Linked DNA regions of Homo sapiens: region 2 is linked to region 1. Evidence: fine-mapped expression QTL. Tissue or cell type: whole blood. Region 1 holds a variant in brackets; the other region holds the start of a gene. All regions are shown on one strand. Distances are from middle to middle.

Region 1 (10,330 bases):
TTTGGACTGTAGCTGATTGCAGATGCTTTCAGGAAGAATCAAAACAACTATCTGTGAATCACCAACATGTAAAATGACTGTTGTTAAAACTCTGATAAGAGTTTGGTATAATAAAGACAGTAACTCCAGCCAGTACTCCAATCATGATGCTGACAGTGGCCCCAACTGAGAGACCAAAAGAACTTTCTTGTCCTGAAGCAGCTGTCATGGAAAAAAAAAGAAGAGAAGGAATAAATGATAAAGACAGCTCACATAGAAATTTAGTTACTTCTGTGGCATATTACATTCTGACTAACTTCTGTGGAATATGACATGATTATTATAATAACATATTCAGTTTCTAGGAATCTCATAATTTTGGGGACACTCACATCAGTAACATACCCATAAATAAAACTTAGAGAAGGTTTAGCATCACTTATCACTTATCATTTGAAAATGCTTTTTATATAATTTAACATATCAAATAAGGTGGCTTTTCCATTTAGCTTCTGTTTCTCAACTGGATTAGTGAGTTGTTGATGTAGCCTATTAATGAAGAAGGACAACATTATCGAGAATGTGAAAAGGCAACCCATGAGATGGAAAACTATTTGCAAATTATACATCTGATAAGGGATTAATTTTCAAAATATTATATTCAGAATATTTCAGAAGAACTACATATCAAAAACAGTGGGGGGAATAGGGAGTTGTTCAGTGGGTCTGCAGTTTCTGTGATGCAGAATGAGAAAGTTCTAGAGGTCTACTGTACAGCTTGGTGCCTATACTTCATACAGATTGAGTATTTCTTATGCATAAGACTTAGGACCAAAAGTGTTTTGGATGTCCTACTTTTTTTGATTTTGGAATATTTGCAGTATACTTACTGGTTTAGCATTTCATATTTTAATAATTCAAAATCCAAATGTTCCAGTGAACATTTCTTTTAAGCATCACATCAGGGGTCAAAATCGTTGGATTTTAGGGCATTTCAGACTTTGGATTTTTAGATTTGGGATGCTCAATGTTTACTACTAACATTTGCATTTAAAAATTCATCATGAGTTTGGACTTCATGTCATGTTCTGACAATAGTAAAATGAAAATTTGCAGGAAACATTTTTTTTCTATAAGTGGACACTGTTATTAACGGCCCAAAGATCTAAGATCGATTGCTGGAAGTAGTATTCATCTTGATAACATAAAAAGGTTTAGGTCTGCTCTGAATTCCAGTTGGATCACATTATGCTCAAAGAAAGGTGCTGAAGATGGTTTGGAATTAGCAACTCCCTGGGTAGTGGGAGGCATGTGCATTCTGTTGGGAGGACAGGATTGATCAGAGAGAAAGTCTTAGGTGTGTCAATTACATAAAGTGAGGAATGACGCCAAATTAAGAGAAGTGATGTGTGTTATGTTAGTGAATTTAGAAAGAGCTCCCTGCTTCTAATTTCTGTGCAGTTAGGCAAAAAGGGGAGGAGCCCAAAAGAGGCATGTGAAATGCTTTCATCATTTTCTCTTGATCTCAAGAAACACTAGAGTTTGATTACATTTGTTTAAATTGGGCAGAGTCTAAGGGAGACGCCAGTGCCTCATGCATCTCCCCACCTGAAGGACCCCACCTTTCGACAATGGTGTCATCATGAGGACACAGGTGTGTGTAAAACTGGCAGCAAACCCATCAGACAGCACCCACCTGGCCAGCTCCATCCTGTCCCAGGAACCACTACTATTCTCATTATGTGTATGTTACAGACTTTGAAGTGGTCCCACAACTCCAAAATATAAAATATGCTATTGTCAATACAAAATATTGGAAAGAAAGCTGGATAAGTTGTTCCACTTTTTTCGCATTCTTTTTAAACTTTGCTGTTTCCGTTTTAGAAGTTTCTGTTGACACACCCTCAAGCTAGATATTTGTTCCTCAGTTGTGCCCAGGCTACCAGGCTTCTTCATTTATAGACTTTTTTTTATAGCATTGTTTAAAGTTCTTTCTTAGAATATCCATCTCTCTGCCTACATCACCCATCTTTTCCTGCATGGTGTCTACTTTTTCCTTCATAACTGGTAACCAGAGTTGCTTTAAATTTTCAGTCTGATAATTTCAACATCTCTGCCATATCTGTGTCTGGTTCTGATCCTTGCTCTTTCAAACCACATTTTTTTTTTTTTTGCCATAGCCTGTCTTGTACTTTTTTCTGTTTTTTTTTTTTTTTTGAAAGCCAGACATGATGTACTGGGTAAAAGGAACTTGGGTGAGCCGGCCTTCAATGATATAGTGGTGAATGTGGGGAGGGAGGAGTTCTGTGGTCCTGAATGAGGTCTGTTCCCTGGGTTGTGAATGTCACAACTGCCTCTCAGTATTTTCTCCTCCTTAGGTGGGATATGATGGCTAGAGGGGGCTGGAGTTGGACATTTTCCCTTCACCAGGCCAGTTAAGCTTCCATCAAACCCCAGCTGATTCGGCTATGGTAAAACAATCTTTATGAATACAGGTCTTGCCAGGAAGAATTGAATTCACTGCCATCTAAGTGGTTCCTCCCCATCCCCCACAAGAAAGATGAGGGGAATTTTATTGAATATTCACTGTGAAAACCTGGTATAGTTCCAGGAAGTGAGAGCCATAAAATTGTCCTCCTAATCCCATACCTGATCCATCTGCTGGAGTGTTTAACTCTGTGCCTTGTCCACATTGAGCCTTCAGCAATTCATCAGTTACAGTTCAGGGTTTTTGACTGTGTCTGGATAAGGTCAGCCGGTGGCTAGGATGCAAAAGACACCCCACTGAGTTTCTGGGCCTGGGTTTCTGCTCAGGTAAGACGTGCTGCTCTGTATTTACCTGTGGGTCTCTCCAATTTATGGGGGAGTTGGCTCTGAGACCTTGCTTCTCTGAGCGGTCGAAAAGAGTTTTTGATTTTTAAGTTTATTCATCTTTCTACTTGTTACAACTGAGTGACAACCACAGCAGGATGAGGTTGGAGTGAAATGGGTAAAATAAGCCTGTGGGCATTGGGGACTGTAGACATGTCCTTCCTCTGATCCCCTGGTGAGTCAGTGGAGAGAGTGAAACCACCTTTGCAAAGATTACAGCAGCGAGATGGAGCTAGTATGGCAGACTTCATCTTACCTCTAGCTGGAGGCTGGCTGTCCTTGCTCATTCATGGGCATAGGCCAGGTTAACCATGGGAGGAATTTAGTTTACAGTGTAATTTTGAAGCAAGAATGATAATATCCCCTTACTAAAATAAACTCCCTCCTACTCAAGGATGGTCTTTGTCAAAGTAATACAAGACCATAACATTAGGATTATAGGAGGGACCAAAATCCTGCTAAAATGTAGTCATAGTTTCTATAATCCATTATTGCTCAGGAGTCATGTGGCCAGCAGTCACAAGACTTGTGATTTCTTTAATTGCTCCTATAGATAACATCACTATTATAGATTATGAGATTGGTCTTTTGAGATATTTCTCAGACTTGCATTCTGGCAACCAGCTGGCCTCATCCAGACCCGTGAGCAATGCCTCCAGTCATGTGGCCCCCAGTCAGAGGCAGATCAAACACACAGAGACGATTTCCCCCACCTGCATGATTTCATTCCCATCCAATCACCAGGACCCATTCCTTAGACCTCAAACTTTTTGAAAAACTCCAACCCTAGCCATTGGGGAGGTTGATTTGAGTAATAATAAAATAAGCTCCTGTTTGGCAGCCTTGGGCTAATTAAAATCTTTCTTTACTACAAATCACCCTCTTCATAAATTAGTTTTGCCTGCGCAGGGAGCAGGATGGACCTGTCGGTCTTCCTGTCAGGTAATTATAAGAGTGGATGGAGAAACCACTCATTTCTATCTGGTGGCCTGTTCCATGAGTCAGCCTCTCAGAAGGAAAGAGCCCTGGAACAGGATACAGTGAAAGCTCATTCTCCTGGTGACCTGAAGACAATGGCTCATAATGGAGCCTGGCGGAAGTGGCAACTCTGGCTAATTTCAGTGTTTTTTTTGGGGGTGGGGAGGGGGTGCAGTCAGGCCACAGTGTGAGCAGAAAAGGAGCAGAATAGTCAGCTTTTGTCTGAGGAAGTCCAAAGCATGGAGAAAGATGTGCTGGACAGGGCATGCCAGCTAGAATGAAGGTGGAGCCGGGGGCAGAAGATGAGGGACACAGAGGAGCAGAGGGAGCCAGAGACACCCATGGCAGGGAGCAGTGACCCCAGTGACCAGGGGCCCCCAGGGTCTCAGTTCAGTACCAGGGATCCCTGAAAGCCCTCCCATGGCCTAGGAACCCTGGAGTCACATGAGACGAGGTAGCTTTAGGGACAGGGAGTAAGAGGGAAGGAACATGGGTCTCAGCACCCAAGTGATAGGGAACAGGTGTGGCCAGAAACCTCTAGGATTCTGCATCCAGGATCCGGTCCCTAAAGAGGTTATGAATCATTCATTCCTTCATTCAATGGCTCCTTCCCTCATGTGAGAACTACAGAGTGTGTATCTCACACTGAGCCTGTGTTAGTGTGAATGGGGAGAGAAAGCCAAGTCCTCTCCTTTATTCTTTCATGGGAATGATACTGACTCTTTGGAAAACACAGGATTTCAGGTTCCATGAGGAGGATTAGGATCTGAGGGAAAGGTCTGGACATTCCTCCTACTGGCTCTGACAGTTGAGGCAGGTGATTTAGTTCTGGAGTACAAACGAATCAGTAGTCCATTTGCTCTCACTCCTCTGAGGTTTGGATGCCTAAGAAGAAAGGATTTGAGCCGACAGATGACCATGGGCTCCTTAGAACTTAATAAGACCTCACTTCTCATGGAGGAGAGGATGGAGGTGTGGTTACAGAAAGACCTCGTGTGACTCTGATCTGCCCCTCATGTTTGTGTGACCCTGGTTCAGTGACTGTGTCTCCCTGTGGCTCAGTTTCCTCTCAATCATATAAGCTAAATGGTAAATGGTCTGTGACTTGTCGTGTTGACTCTGAATGAACTTTAAATTATTCACAGTCACCTGACCTAACGCTTGGCATAGAGGAGGTGTTCACACAAACAGTGTTTATTATTTGCCT[T/C]CATGAGTGAGCACCCTCAGACCTGATCCCTGTGGACAAGTTGCTGCCGGGAACATCTTGTCTCTTCTATTTCTGTCCCAGGGGACACTGAACTTTCTATGGGGTCTCCTAAGCCTCCCAGGGCAGTTGGCTGATAGCCTAAGAAGCTTGTCCATCTGTTCACTCTGAGTCTCAGGTGAAAGAGAAGGCTCTGTCTTTGACCAGATGAGGCTCTTGGGGCTGAACCCTGCCTGGGAGCAGCTCCAGAGCCACATCCATCATACAGCTGGTCAATACTTGCTCCCAGTCAGTCCTGCTCAGGAGGCCACAACCCAGCCCTGGCACAGGTTTTCCAGGGTCACTTGGATTCAGGATCTGAGGACTGGGTTCTGGGGCCAGGGCTTCTAGGCTTCTAGGACTGAGCTTCTCTATAAGGATCCCAGGGGACCCCTCAAACCGGGCCCTGATGTAGTTCTCCAGGGTCTTTTTCCGAATCATGTTCATGGGAAGTGCACAGGGTGATGGGCTGAGACTGATCTCCTCCTGCTGAGTTTCCCCCATCAGATTGTCCTTTCTCTGCAGCACGTGTCTTCAGAGTATGGATGCAGGAAATGAATTCTGATCCATTGAAATTTGTCTACCCTGTGTGTGTCCTGCACTGAATGCCCAAACACTAAAATGGGACATAATGCAGAGGGGGACACAGGCACAGCCCAGGCCTAACAATCCTGTGGGTGCGTGAAGTAGAACTGACCCCCAACACCCAGAGGTCATGAATTCCTCACGGTGTACACGGAAATATCCAGTTGCTTCTTCAATGGTAAAATCTGTCTTTATGATTTGTAGGGTATAGAATCCTGTGTCATCCTGGGTGACTTTCCGGGTCAGCAGGGATGCATTGGCAAATATTACCTCCTGACTACTGTATGCAGGTCCTGAGCTAGATCTTTGAATGCCTGTTGCATATCCTAAAATTCAATAGTAGAGATCCACACTTCTTCCTTTGTGCCAATTGTAGCCCATCACTTTCAGGGGCAGATTGTGGGCAAGTAGAAAAAACTCCTCCTCCTCCTCCTCTGTGGCATTGAATGGCATGGCTTCAGTAGTGACTCTGGCAGTGGTGGGTGGGTTCCAGAAGGTTAAAAGTGAGGCTAGGATGGGGAGGGAGCATCAGTCAATATCAAAACCTATGTATTGGGATGGAAAGTTGGGGCCCTTTGTCCTTAGAGGTTCTCTTCACCCATGAGCCTTGGAGAGAGAGAGAATGTGTGTGTGTGTGTGTGTGTGTGTGTGTGTGTGTGTGTGTGTGTGTGTGTGTGTGTCCTGCTGGGTCAAGGTCAGCAGCATGACCCCCATTCCTTCAACACCTCTGAACTTGGCATTTCCCTGTGTGGAATCCTCTTCCCCAGGGGTCTGCATGGTTCCCTTTCCACTGACCTCATATCCTGCTCACATCAGGGCATCCTTGAAAGAGCCCTTTCTTGACACCTCCACTAGAGATTCTGGGTCTTCCCTTTCTCACTTTTCCCTGCTCAGTTTTCTCCAGGGCTCTTGTCAACACCTGACCTCACATTCTAGATATCCTTGCGTGTCTCGCTCCCCTCCCCATAACAGCATCAGGTTCATGAGGGCAGGGACTTGTATGATCTTGGTTGTACCGCAGTGCCTGGGACATGCTGTGGACTCTTGTGAATGAGTTTGTGAGCATTCCCAGAGCCCTCCAAGGCCTGTGATTTATTTCCCAATTTCTGAAGTTGGTGGCTGATGACAATGCCTTATACCCTCACTATGTTTTTATATGAAGTGTTATCTGATATAGTTATTATGATCATTTTTCAAAATGTAGTGGCCAGTGATGATTAACCGGGAATAGAGAACACTTGAGATTTGTTTGCTTCTTACCATAAATTTCAGTTCAATGTGATTTTCCTGTTTTAATCCTGTCCCTTCTGGTGTCCTCTTTTCTGTTAAGGCAGCAGTAGAAGCTCTAAGTCCTCTTTCCCCAGGAGCCCCATTTTCCCCAGGAGACCCAAGCCAGTCCCTGTGCCTTCTCATTTCCTCTTCAAGGAAGTTCTCTCCTCACCTGTGAACATGAGCTTCTGCCAGAGGATGTGCCATCTGGAGAAAGGGACTGATAGGGGGGCACCATGGTCTGTGCTGCCTGCTTGTCCTCCTCTGTGGAGATGAGCCTGGGATCCGGAAAGTTTCTGAGCAGGGCTGTCAGCTGGGCTGTCCTTCCACCTTCTATGCTGAGCCTCTTCCTGGGGCAGGAGCACTTCTCAGGCTCATGGGTGGGGTCTGTACCCAGGACACCTCTCTGTGCCCTCCCCTCTCAGTCCTGCTTCCTTGTCCCTCCTTTCTGTTTCTCTTCTGTCTGTGTTTCAGGCCCCTGGGAATTGCTGAGTCCTCTGCCTCCTTCAGCAGTGATTCTCTCACCCAACCTCTACACACACTATGTGCAGACACACACACACACACACACACACACACACACACACACAGACATCCTTTAGGTTTGGTAAGCACAGCCCTGGGCCCTCAGTGTCCTCCCATTTCCATTGCTCCAGGTCAGGGTGCACAGTCGCTCCCCCTGCCCTCTCCCATTCCCATCTGGCTTTTCTCTTCAAAGCAGGAGGCTGGGCTGCACCATGACCCTGTCACAGTGATGCACCCTCACCTTGCTTTGGGTGGGCTGAGTGCTGGCTGGTGAGAAGGACCCTCCCTCTCTTTCATTATGTTGAACTTTGCTACAGCTTCCATGGTTAGACATTCGATGACCCGGTTGTCCAAGAGGGTATTTTCCTTCGTGGAGGTGTGCAGGATCAATCTCTTATGCCTCCTGGTAGGAAAGGCCTGTGCTGATTGGTCAGTGGGGCCTATGGGCCCAGTGTTCACCAGGGACAGGTCTCAGCCACTCTCTTGGTCCCTGGGTTCTGGTGGCTGAGCTGGGGTGAGGCCCATCCATTTTCTTCCTGACCATCTTTGGTGTCCTCTGTCCTTGGCCCAGCTGACTGTCCTGTGGTCACCCCACCTTCCCCACGGCTGGTGCAAAAGGGAGTGGGGTGATGCCCAGGGTCCCCACAGAACACAGCTCTTCAAGACCCAGAGAGAGAGACTGGGAAAGAACAGGGGCTCAGAGCTGGAGAGATTTCTGCAGACTTACTCTGCAGCCAGGATGGGCTTAGCCCTTCTTGCTATACATCCCTTGGGGTTCCTCTTGAGGGATTGAGGCAGATCAAGCTCCTCTGTGTAGAAGAAGAACAGGCAGTGGCTGGAGAGCCTGCGTGAAGGGACTTTGCTCACACCTGAGAGGGTGTGTGGGGGTGGGCCATGTTCTGAGAACAAAAGGAGCTCATACCCCCCACTTCACCTTCCCCATGCACAAAGGACAGCCCTGTCTTCCCTCCCAGCTTCACGAGAGACAGCAGGGGGCAGATTGTGGGTGAGTAGAAAAACCTCCAGCAGGTGGCCACATCATGGATGGTGCCTGTGCGTGACCTTCAAACACCCTCTGCACCTCCTAGCGTGCAATGGGCAGGTCATAGGGTGCCTGGCTGATTCCTAGGAATACTGTGGGCACTCAGGCAGCTGCTGTTCTGTGTCAGCACTGGGATCAGCCTGGGATAACCTAGAGAACCGTACAGAGGGAGTGGGGTGGGAATGTAGGGAGCAGTCACAGAAAAAGTTGATAAGGATGGAAAGAGGTCACAAGGGTAAAGTGCCTAATATGGCATCATGTGGACCATCGCTGCCCTTGCAGATGCCCTTTTGGCTGGGTCAGCAGCCCCTGGGGAGTCTTGTGGCTGGGATTCTGCCATCCTCTGGTGAACATGGGGGAAATTTGGATGACAGCAGCCCCAGGCAAGGCTGCATGTTTTATTCCATGTGAATCTGCACATTTCACAGCAGATTATTCACCTATGTCACAGATCCATCACATTCCAGCCCCATGAGTCTCAGTCTCTGTGACTGTAAGTTCACTATCCTCCCTCTATCACAATCAGATGTCCCAAACACAGATTTCTGTCACCTGTGAGTTTGTGTTTGTGTGCAGTGGGCTGCACTGTGTATGCCCTGGGGACAGTGATGTCTGGGTGGGGCTGAGCACTGGGCAGAGGTTTGGAAGCAGAAGAGGGAGGTGCAGGGCAGGAAGATCAATGACAGAGGAGCAGAGAGGGAGCAGGGACAAGTCATCTTTGTTTCTCACTCCCAGGGGACCAAGAATGCAGGACCCTGACCTTAGGGCTCAACACCACACACTGTTGGTGTCCGTGGATGTCACCAGTGCTCGTAATTTCATGTTGCCTTGGCATTCATTTATTAAGGTGTAAGTTTACCTGCTTTATATCAGAGGCAGGGCTTGGTCACCGTGACAGTTCCCAATACTGTACCTGGCCAAATGGCTGCAGTTGGTGGCCAGAGATAAAATCTTAGAGGCATCTCTCCTGCTTAGTGTGCTGGGCTCCCCCTCTACCCAGCTGCTTCCTTTAAACTGACGGTTGTGAAATTTGCCCTGAAATTTAAAGTGACCACCTCTCAGTCACAGCGTGGTCACCTGGCCCCAGTGTTTGCTTGCTTTAAACTCACCCATTAAAGCTTTCTGCTGGAAACCTCAGCTAACGCCTTGGACCCACTAAAGCCATTGGCCTACAGGTCCCTACTTTCCTCTCTGCCTGGACTCCTTGACCTCTGTGTCTATTATCTCTAGGTGTGCCATGTGCTCCTCAGAGTCTGTAAATAGCAAAAAAAAAATTTGTACTTTCACATTGTGGTTGTATCACTATAGCCTCACCTGCCATCTGGTGCCTGACATTGAGGCTGCCCCATGGGACCCATGCTGGTTGAGCCCCTGCTGGAGCTCTTTTCTTGGGGTCTCTGGTGCTGCTGGGGACAGGCACTGTCAGGTGATTTGATGGAGAAATGGAAGAGTTTTATTCAAAACAGTGTGTCAGATGATGTTTTCATGGGCTTCAGCTGCTGTAACAAACACCTTAGTCTGGGTGACTTAAAATTTAGAAATCTATTTCTCATAGTTCTGGAGCCTGGGAAGTCCAAGTTCAAGGTTCCAGCTGATTCAGTCCTGGTGAGGGCTTCCTTGCAGATTCCTGCTCTCTTGCTGTATCTGCACATGGTGCAGGCTTGAAGGTGGGTGGAGAGACAGAAAGAGGTAGAGACCCTTCTCCCATGTTTTCTTCTATTTATAAGGTCATTAACTCTATCATGAAGCCTCCACTTTTATGACTTAGTCTTACTGTAATTATCTCCCAAAAATGCCACCTCCAAATTTCATCACATTAAGGATGAGGGCTTTAACAA
Region 2 (10,330 bases), 110 kb after region 1:
TGGGGCATCATCCTGGGATCCCTAAGGTCACATGGGAAACTTCTCAAGCACCGATGCTGCCATCTGATACTGTGGCCTGATCCCACCCCTGGACACCTGGAAATTCTCATGAACCCGTGGAGGCCTGGTGCTACCTGAAACTGTGACCTCATTCTACTTCCAACTCACAAGTTGAAGCGTAGATTTACATGCAGTCAAATCAATAATTAGATTAATTGGCTGACTAAAGGAAAAACTTCAGACACGTTAAATTTAACACAGTTTAATTGAGTAATGAATGATGCATTAATCAGGTAGCCCCCAGACCCAGAGTAGGTTCAGAGAAACTTCAGGGTGTTCCGTCCATAAATGGTTGGATAACATCTACCGCAGAAGAAAGTGATGTAGAAGAAACTAAGGAAGGCACTGAAATAGCTGGACTGCTAACAGTTGGGTGCTTGCCTTATTTGAACCAGGTTTGAACAGTTAGTTGGGTACCTGTGATTGGCTGAGACTCAGCTATTTTTACTATAGCAGGTTACAGACTGTTTACACATCAAGTTAGGTTACAGTTCACTATGTATGGAGAAACCATTAGACCAAACTTAAAGTAGTAGGGAGGCAGCTTTAGACCTAACAATGTTAACAGGCCAAACATTTCAATTAAGGGGTACAGATTGGTCAAATTGCATAAAAAAGCAATACCCATATATACTGTCTACAAGGGAAATATTTTACATATAGGGAAAAGCATTATTGAAAGTGTGAGTATTGAAAAAGATATACCATGCAAACAGTAAGCACAAGAAAGTTGAAGTACTAGTAAAAAAAAAAAAAGAAAGAAAGAAAATAGAATTCAAAACAGAAGGTAAAAGAGACTGAAGCAGGAGAATTGCTTGAACCTGGGAGGCGAAGGTTGCAGTGAGCCAAGATTGCACCATTGCACTCCAGCTCTGGGTGACAGAGCAAGACTCCATCTCTGTGGAAAAAAAAGAAAAGGAGAAACAAATGTGAGTGTAAGCAAGGCGAGTGTTTCCTCTATGATTAGTAATTAGCAGTCTTCAAAAAGACATTCTGTGGCTTGGGGTTTAATAGTAAAATAATTAGCTGGCATGGTGACATGTTCCTGTACTCCCACCCAAGAGGCTGAAGTGGGAGGATTGTTTGAGCCCAGGAGTTTGAGGCTGCAGTGAGCTGTGATTGCACCACTGTACTCCAGCCTGGACAAGATTGAGAGAGATCCTGTCTCAAAAAAAAAATAAGTAAAACTGGTGGTTTAACCTCAAGGCTTACAACTCATTGTTTTGTAAGGTTTGCAGAAGATCTCAATCCTTTACAAGTAGGAAGGAAAAGCCTGTTGGTTTGAGAGGGAACTGGGTGTGTGCATAGGCCTGTTGGTAGGAGAACTGGAGCACTCAAAAAGGGAGCTGCACGATGCTTATGCCGGCTTCACTGAGGGCTGTGGGCATTGGAGGAATGGGCTTTGAAGGACAATTAGGAGTTTGTGGGGTAAACAAATGCATGGGGGAAGCGGATTAGGGAGAGGTCTCCCATGCAGAGGGACCAGTGTGAGCAAAGCCAAAGAGGCTGGAAGAGACTAGGGATGTCCTGGGAATAGATATTAGACAGGGAATGATAAGGGTGAGGCATGGGGGCTGGTCTCCAAGACCAGTGTGGGAGGTTGGAATTTTCCCCCAGGAATACAGGAAGCATGGAAAAAATTCTGAGGATGGAATACGGAGGGCCTGAGGTATGTGGTGGCTCACTGTTGTGTGTTTCTCATTTCTGGATCTAAGAGACATTCTTTAATCCAGCAAATGTTTACTTACCTACACTGTAATCATATGCTGAGTACACAGAGATGGATCAGACACAGCTGGAAGGAACCAGATACACACATGCCCATGCACACATGCACACTGACATGTACACCGAGACACACACATCAGACACACATTCACACACAGCACACAGATACACACAGACATACATATATACAGACATGTGCACACACAAACATGCATGCACTCACAGTCACACATGAACACACATAGCCAATTATACTATAAAGTACAAAAAAAAAATTTTTTTTTGAGACAGGGTCTTGCTCTGTCACCAGAGCAAAAGCTGGAGTACAGTGGCGTTATCTCGGCTCACTGCAACTGCAACCTCCACCTCCTGGGCTCCAGCGATCCTCCCACCTCAGCCTCCCAAAGTGTTGGGATTACAGGCATGAGCCATGGCACCCAGCCTAGAATCTTACTTGAGGTAAAATGAGAATCCACTGGAAGGTTTTGGTTTTTTTGAAACAGAGTCTTGCTCTGTCACCCAGGCTGCAGTGCAGTAGCACAATCTTGACTCACTGCAGCCTCCACCTCCCAGGTTCAAATGATTCTCTCGCTGCAGCATCCAGAGTAGCTGGGATTACAGGGGCGCACCACCACGCCCAGCTAATTTTTTCATTTTTAGTGGAGACAGGGTTTCACCATGTTGGCCAGGCTGGTCTCGAACTCCTGATCTCAGGTGATCCACCACCTCGGCCTCCCAAAGTGCTGGGATTACAGGCCTGAGCCACCGTGCCTGGCCCATTAGAAAGTTTTAAACAGGAGTAATGTGGTGTGGCTTGCAATTAAGAGATCGCTCTGGTGCCAGGTGGGAAATAGCCACATGGGCAAGGGCAGGGCGTACTGCAATAATCCAGTGACCAATGGTGGTGTCACAAGTGCTTATATAAAAAGATGCCTTCACTGTATATTAGCCATTGAGCTTTTTTCTTTTTTACAAACGTTCCATGGATTCATAAACTATTTGCCAACCATTGCTCTAGACTAACCTCCTCATTTTCTTTTTTTTCTTTTTTTTCTTTTTTTTTGAGACCAAGACCAAGTTTTGCTCTTGTTGCCCAGGCTGGAGTGCAATGGTGCAGTCTCAGCTCACTGCAACCTCCGCCTCCCAGGTTCAAGTGATTCTCCTGCCTCAGCCTCCCAAGTAGCTGGGATTACAGGCGCGTGCCACCAGGCCTGGCTAATTTTTGTATTTTTAGCAGAGACAGGGTTTCACCGTGTTGGTGAAGGTCAGGCTGGTCTCAAACTCCTGACCTCAGGTGAACCACCCACCTTGGCCTCCCAAAGTGCTGGGATTATGGGCTTGAGCCACTGCACCCAGCCTAACCTCTTCATTTTCTAGATGAGGACACTGAAGCTTGGAGAGGAACAGAAATTGGCTCAGGCTAAGGAAGATCTGTCAATCTCTCTTGCACCAAAAAGGCAAAGCCACCTTTCTCAAGGGGCTGTGTATTGGGGTGTTCTTGCACTGCTATAAAGAAATACCTGAGACTAGAAGTAATTTATAAGAAAAGAGGTTTGATTGGCTCAAGGTTCTGCAGCTGTACAGGAAGCGTGGTGCCAGCATCTCCTTCTGGGGAGGCCTCAGAGAGCTTTTACTTATGGCAAAAGGATGCAGGCCAGAGAAGGGGAGCGAGAGAGAGTAAGAAGGGGAGGTGCCACACACTTAAACAACCAGATCTGGCAAGGACTCACTCATCATTGCAAGGACAGCACCAAGTCATGAAGGATCTGCCCCCATAACCCAAACACCTTCCACCAGGTCGCATCTCCAACACTGGGAATTACATTTCAACATGAGATTTGGGCGGGGGACAAATATCCAAACTATGTCACGGAGCAAGAGGAGGTCCCTGGAGCTGTTGAAGCAGAAATGGGGTGAAGAATAGAGGTGGAGGGTGCTTAGGCTTCCAAGGTCTCTTCTAGGTGTGAGATGGAGGGATTCTGCGACCAAGTCACCTGGAGAGTGACTCAACAAGGTGACTGCTTTCCCAAGCACGAGCCCTCGGGGGACAGACGGGGGCTGAAAACTGGCACACATTCTTCCTGGATCCTTTGACATGTGATCATTCAAAGATAACAGTTCAAAGATAACAAAGGGATTGAAGCTTTACCAATCCCTTTCTTATTGTGGCATTTTCTCTATTAAAAATAAATACTCATTTATACTATAACTTACAGAATCAGTACCAATTCTGAAAGTATACAAAGCGTTGCCTTACTTTAAGGAAGGAGACCACTACTACTCCTGCTGCCCTCCTCCCCCGACCTTGCCTAGTTCACAAGACAGGAGGAAAGAGAGAAAGCAAAAAGTTGGAAAGAAACAGAAGTAAGATAAATAGCCAGTCAACCTTGGCACCACCACCCAGCCCTAGGAGTTAAAAAAAGTAATAATAATAACAGCAACCCCTGACCTAAACTACTTGTGTTATCTGTAAGTTCCAGACATTATATGAAAAAGCATTGCAAAACTTTCTGTTCTGTTACCTGATGCATGTAGCCCCCAGTCACGTTTCCCACGCTTGCTCGATTTATCACGACCCTTTCATGTGGACCCCTCGAAGTTGTAAGCCTTTAAAAAGGCCAAGAATTGGCCAGGCGTGGTGGCTCATGCCTGTAATCCCAGCACTTTGGGGGGCGGGCGGATCACGAGGTCAGGAGATCGAGACCATCCTGGCTAACACAGTGAAACCCCATCTCTACTAAAAATACAAAAAAATTAGCCGGGTGTGGTGGTGGGTGACTGTAGTCCCAGCTACTCGGGAGGCGGAGGCAGGAGAATGGCATGAAGTCGGGAGGCAGAGCTTGCAGTGAGCCGAGATTGCACCACTGCACTCCAGCCTGGGCAACAGAGGGAGACTCCAAAAAAAAAAAAAAAGGCCAAGAATTTATTTTTCAGGGAGCTCGGCTCTTAAGACGCAAGTCTGCTGAGGCTCCCGGCCAAATAAACCTCTTCCTTCTTTAATCCAGTATCTGAGGAGTTTTGTCTGCAGCTCATCCTGCTACAACTTCATGTCACACCTGGAAAGCTTACATAGGCCAGGGGTGGTGGCTCACGTCTGTAATCCCAGTACTCTGGGAGGCCGAGGTGGGCAGATCACCTGAGGTTAGGAGTTCAAGACCAGCCTGGTCAACACGGCGAAACCCCGTCTCTACTAAAAATACAAAAATTAGCCAGGTGTGGTGGCAGGTGCCTGTAATCCTAGCTGCTCAGGGGAGACTGAGGCATGAGAATCGCTTGAACCTGGGAGAGGGAGGTTGCAGTGAGCTGAGATCACGTCACTGCACTCCAGCCTGGGGGATAGAGAGAGGCTCTGTCTCCAAAAAAAAAATACAAAAAATTAGCCAGGCATGGTAGCTTATGCCTGTAATCCCAGCTACCTGGGAGGCTGTGGTAGGAGAATCACTTGAACCCAGGAGGAGGAGGTTGCAGGGAGCCAAGATTGTGCCATTGCACTCCAGCCTGGGCAAAAAGAGCAAAAGTCTGTCAAAAAGGGAAGGGAAGGGGAGGGGAAGGGAGGGGAGGGGAGGGAAGGGAAGGTTACATAGATGTGAAAGTGAACTGCCAGCCATGAGCAACAAATCCGAGTGACATGTCTTCTTCATGGTCCTGACACGGACGCGTGGGTTCGATCTGACAGCAGCCTGTGCCATCATAGCTACTGCTCATGCATGCATTCGGGGTGCCCAAAGTGATGCTGAGGGGGGCATTCCTAGATTCAACCCTCCAGGAGACCATGAGGAGGCTGGTGCGATAGCGCAATCAGATGAAGACGCCTGGGCTGCACAGGGGCCACTGCAAGTGAAGACTCAAGAGGCCAAGCTGACTCCCAGAGGCTAGGGCCACTAAGGTGGGTGCCGAGGCAGGGGCCAGGCTGGGAACATGAGAGGCCATTTGGGTAGGGAGATAAGTTCCGTGAGTGAGGGCCAAGGGTCTGACCTCCTAGTGTGGCTGGAGAAGCAGAGACAACAGAGTGCAAAAAGAGAAATGGGCCAGGCGAGGCCATCTGGCAACGCACTGCCCACCCTCCATTGCGTGCCTCTGGCTGCAAAAACAGGCAGGATCTTCCGGCCGGTTTGCCCGCCACTCACCTTCCGAGCATGCGCACCCTCCGAGATTGCCAGGAATTGACTTCTCTGTGGCCAATGAGGTGCCGCGTTCCTCCAGGCTCATCCAATGAACTTATCCGATGCTTTTGCATCCACCAATGGGGTTTCGAGTGCTGTGTGGCCAGGCTGGCCCGGCCTTGCGTCGTAAGAGAATGCCAAGCCCGGGGAGAAGGCGTTCCGGGCCTCAACTTTGGCGTCGTGAGATTCTTGTGAGGCGTCTGCCTGGAAGCCGGCAGCAATTTTGCTTCTTTAAAGAGAAAAAGAAGGCTAGGGACTCAGATTCCTGGATTCTGAGGAAAGAGAAGGCTGGGGACCCAGATCCTGGCTCTGAGGGGAACGAGGGTTGGGGGCCTGGGCTCCCGGGCCTGAGAGGGAGGGGACCAGAATGGTGTGTCCCGCAGGAAAAGGTGGTTGGAACCCAGACTCCTCGATCCCTACATAGGACGGGGCTGGGCTCTCAGAATCCCGGGTTCTGATGAGGCTGGGGCTGGGGCTGGGGGCCGAGATTCTGGGTCCCTGAGAGAATGTAAGGGACCCCTGAGACTGAGGGAGAAGCGGCCTTCAGGGCCACACTCCTGATCCTGAAGTTGGAGGGCACTGGGTGGCCGGGCCTGAGAATTAAAACCATGAAAAACTGGGGCGTGATAAACCTGTGAACTCGCTCCAGCTCACAAGCCGGTTAGGGACAGAACGACTTTAGAAGTCGTGGTCATATACACCATAAACCCCACTGTGAGGCCGGGCATCAGGGCTCACTCCTGGAATCCCAGCACTATGGGGGGACGAGGCGGGCAGATCACCTGAGATCAGGAGTTCGAGACCAGCCTGACCAACATGGTGAAACGTCATCTCTACTAAAAATACAAAAAATTCACTGGGTGTGGTGGCGGGCACCTGTAATCCCGGCTACTCGGGAGGCTGAGGCAGGAGAATTGCTTGAACCTGATAGGCAGAGGCAGTGAGCCGAGATTGCGCCACTGCACTCCAGCCTGGGCGACAGTGCAAGACTCCGTCTCAAAAAAAAAAAAAATGCAGATTAAAACACCCCACCCTGAAGTCAGTACTTGCCAGGACCTAGATTTGATCTCATGCACTCTGGCTGAAAAGTTAATTGCCTTCTCTCCATCAAATTCACAGATCCAGACCAGCTCCTCCCAGACCTCTCCAGAAGAAGCCATGGGAACCCCTCGTATCCAGCATTTGCTGATCCTCCTGGTCCTAGGAGCCTCCCTCCTGACCTGTGCGTATGGGGGACATAGGGGAGAGCCGTGTGTCACAGAAGGTGGACTGATGATGAAAAGGGAGCCGCCTTGGCCCATGGAGAAGTGCTTATCCTTTTCTTGTTTTCTCCTCAGCGGGCCTAGAGCTGTATTGTCAAAAGGGTCTGTCCATGACTGTGGAAGCAGATCCAGCCAATATGTTTAACTGGACCACAGAGGAAGTGGAGACTTGTGACAAAGGGGCACTTTGCCAGGAAACCATACTAATAATTAAAGCAGGTGAAATGAGATGGGGCATTTGGGCTGGGTAGGAGGGAGGTTGATTATCTCCATGCCAATGCTTGTTCCCTTCGTCCAGGCCAATTGTGACGGCCACCATCCATTTCCCCTCCTTCCTGTCTCATAACAGGGACTGAGACAGCCATTTTGGCCACGAAGGGCTGCATCCCGGAAGGGGAGGAGGCCATAACAATTGTCCAGCACTCTTCACCTCCCGGCCTGATCGTGACCTCCTACAGTAACTACTGTGAGGATTCCTTCTGTAATGACAAAGACAGCCTGTCTCAGTTTTGGGAGTTCAGTGAGACCACAGGTACCCTGGAAGTGGGGGAGATAGGTACTAAGAGAAACTCCATAAAGAGCTTGTGTATGGCCTCCCTTTGCATTCTGACTTGGCTTAGCCTAAGTGGTCCATACCCCAAAGTACCTCACAGTTCAAGTAATTTTATGTTTCTGAATTGTTCATTGGGATCTAAACACTGCTCAGAGCAGCGAGATACCAGTGAAGCCTGGAGTGTAAACTGGGTTTTGTGTTTATTAAGCAATAAGACAGGCTGGGTGAGGTGGATCGCCTGAGGTCAGGGGTTTGGGACCAGCTTGGCCAACATGGTGAAAACCTGTCTCTACTAAAAATACAAAAATTAGCTTAGCCTGGTGGCGCACACCTGTAATCCCAGATACTCGGGAAGCTGAGGCAGGAGAATTGCTTGAACCCAGGAGGCAGAGGTTGCAGTGAGCCAATATCACACCACTGCACTTCAGCCTGGGACAGAGAGCAAGACTCCATCAAAAAAAAAAAAAAAAAAAGCAATAAGACATCAGTGTAGGTTTCCGAACAGGGTGGTATTATCAGTCTAACAAGTATTGGTTTCCCACTGCTGCACGAGAACGGCCCAGTTCCCCAATTTACAAGGCCTGTAGTAACTTGGCCCTTCCTGTCTTTTCAGCTTCATTTCCCTCTCTTCCCTCTCTCATTTACTGTGTGCTAACTGGGGCTAATACTCAAAATGCTTAACAATGTAGATGGCACTGGCCAATCAAAATGGATTCTGGCCATAAAAAACAAAAACAAAAACAAAAAAAACAGATCAAAGAAACAGCTGGGCCTACAAGCTGAATATGAGTCGTGCAACTTCTCACAATTCCCTGAATCCACCAAGCTGGCTCACACCACCTGACCTTTGTCCTTGCTGTTTCCTTTACTACCCTCCCCACCCCATTTTCACATAGCTAACCCCTGTTCATCCTCCATGTCAATTCAGGTATCAGCTCTTTGAAAATATTTGCCAAATTCTTTTAGGTAGTTGGGTATTCCTCCATTCCTTTGTCATTATACCTTGAACACAGCAGCTACTGAATTGATTACTTACATGTCTTTCTCCTAGGCAGAGATGCCAGGTGACAGGAACTATGTCCTTTTCATCTCTGTATCTTCACACCTCAGCAGAGTTTGGAAGTCAGATCGATGGAGATTTCACAGCAGAGAACACCAGCTGGGGAAGGATGGGGAGGCTGAAGTAATGGGCCTTGATTAGAGTGGCATCTGCAGGAAAATCTTGGGGAAGAGAAGGCAGCAAGGAGCAACATCTCTGGAGGCAGGACCTGCCCTTAACTGTCTCTCTCATTTCCCTCCAGCTTCCACTGTGTCAACAACCCTCCATTGTCCAACCTGTGTGGCTTTGGGGACCTGTTTCAGTGCTCCTTCTCTTCCCTGTCCCAATGGTACAACTCGATGCTATCAAGGAAAACTTGAGATCACTGGAGGTAAACTGAAATGAACATCTGATAGTTTCAGAGGCTGGAAAACCATTTGAGTGGCTCCCCAGAGATTCTGACACTGAGCTCTCCAGGGATGAGGGGGGACTGGATTCTCCTCTGATGTCCTAAAACATCTCTGTCTCTCCCGATCCTTCCTTGTTCTATAGGTGGCATTGAGTCGTCTGTGGAGGTCAAAGGCTGTACAGCCATGATTGGCTGCAGGCTGATGTCTGGAATCTTAGCAGTAGGACCCATGTTTGTGAGGGAAGCGTGCCCACATCAGCTGCTCACTCAACCTCGAAAGACTGAAAATGGGGCCACCTGTCTTCCCATTCCTGTTTGGGGGTTACAGCTACTGCTGCCATTGCTGCTGCCATCATTTATTCACTTTTCCTAAGAAGGCACTTCTGGGCCTGGGTCTGAGGACATCTTTTTTGACTGGGAGCCTTCTTACTGTTGAGGTTCAACAAGCTGAGGAGTAGATGGGAATTTGAGGGAGAATACAGAGATACTATGAACGTATTTGACATTTTTAATACAATTTCTGCTATAATTTTTGTATGCAGTAGGCGTTACTAATAAACATTTCTGCTGTGATTTGTGTATGTTTCAACACTAGAAGTGGAATTTTAGTGCTGAAAGAGCCTTTAAAATTCATCTTCTCCAAACCACACATTCTCCAGAAAGAGAATCTGAGATCTGGAAAATTTCAGTGAGTTTCTTACATTTAGCTATGGCCAGAGCCAAGGCAAGAACTTACATATTTTGACGTAAAGTCTGATTTTCCTTTCACTCTAATATGCTAGCTCTCCTTGCTAGCAGAAGTAACTAGCATTAGCCTCCTCCAGAACACTCCCAGCCCAATCTTAAGGCTGCTGTTTTGGGGTTCTAAAATTTCCCTAGGAAGTATGGCCAAATGAGAAAAATCAGACTCCAAATTCTCCAGTTATGGGCCTGCTGTAGTGGCTTATACCTGTAATCCCAGCACTTTGAGAGGCAGAGGTGGGAGGATTGCATGAGCCAAGGAGTTTGAGACCAGCCTGGGCAACCTAATGAGACTACATCTCTACAAAAAAAAATAATCCAAAAATTAGCCTGGCATGGTGGCGCTCGCCTGTAGTCCCAGCTACTTGGGAGGCT

Evidence for each region. PIP is the estimated chance that this variant, and not a neighbour inherited with it, causes the effect.
Region 2: it holds the start of TEX101, and the variant in region 1 is fine-mapped to the expression of TEX101 in whole blood (TOPMed, PIP above 0.99).

The regions. Positions count from the first base shown.
Region 1 is chr19:43,297,372-43,307,701 of GRCh38, forward strand. It overlaps the pseudogene CEACAMP4. Among named protein-coding and RNA genes, the nearest start is that of LINC03078, 29 kb to the right of the region's middle. The variant T/C (reference allele first, on the strand shown) is at 5,036.
Region 2 is chr19:43,408,811-43,419,140 of GRCh38, forward strand. It overlaps TEX101 (testis expressed 101), which reads left to right and starts at 6,080. Exons shown (of 6, transcript NM_001130011.3): 1 at 6,080-6,228; 2 at 7,071-7,173; 3 at 7,289-7,432; 4 at 7,563-7,745; 5 at 9,068-9,196; 6 at 9,358-9,787. The coding sequence starts at 7,110. The coding sequence ends at 9,587. RefSeq lists a silencer at 4,281-4,467.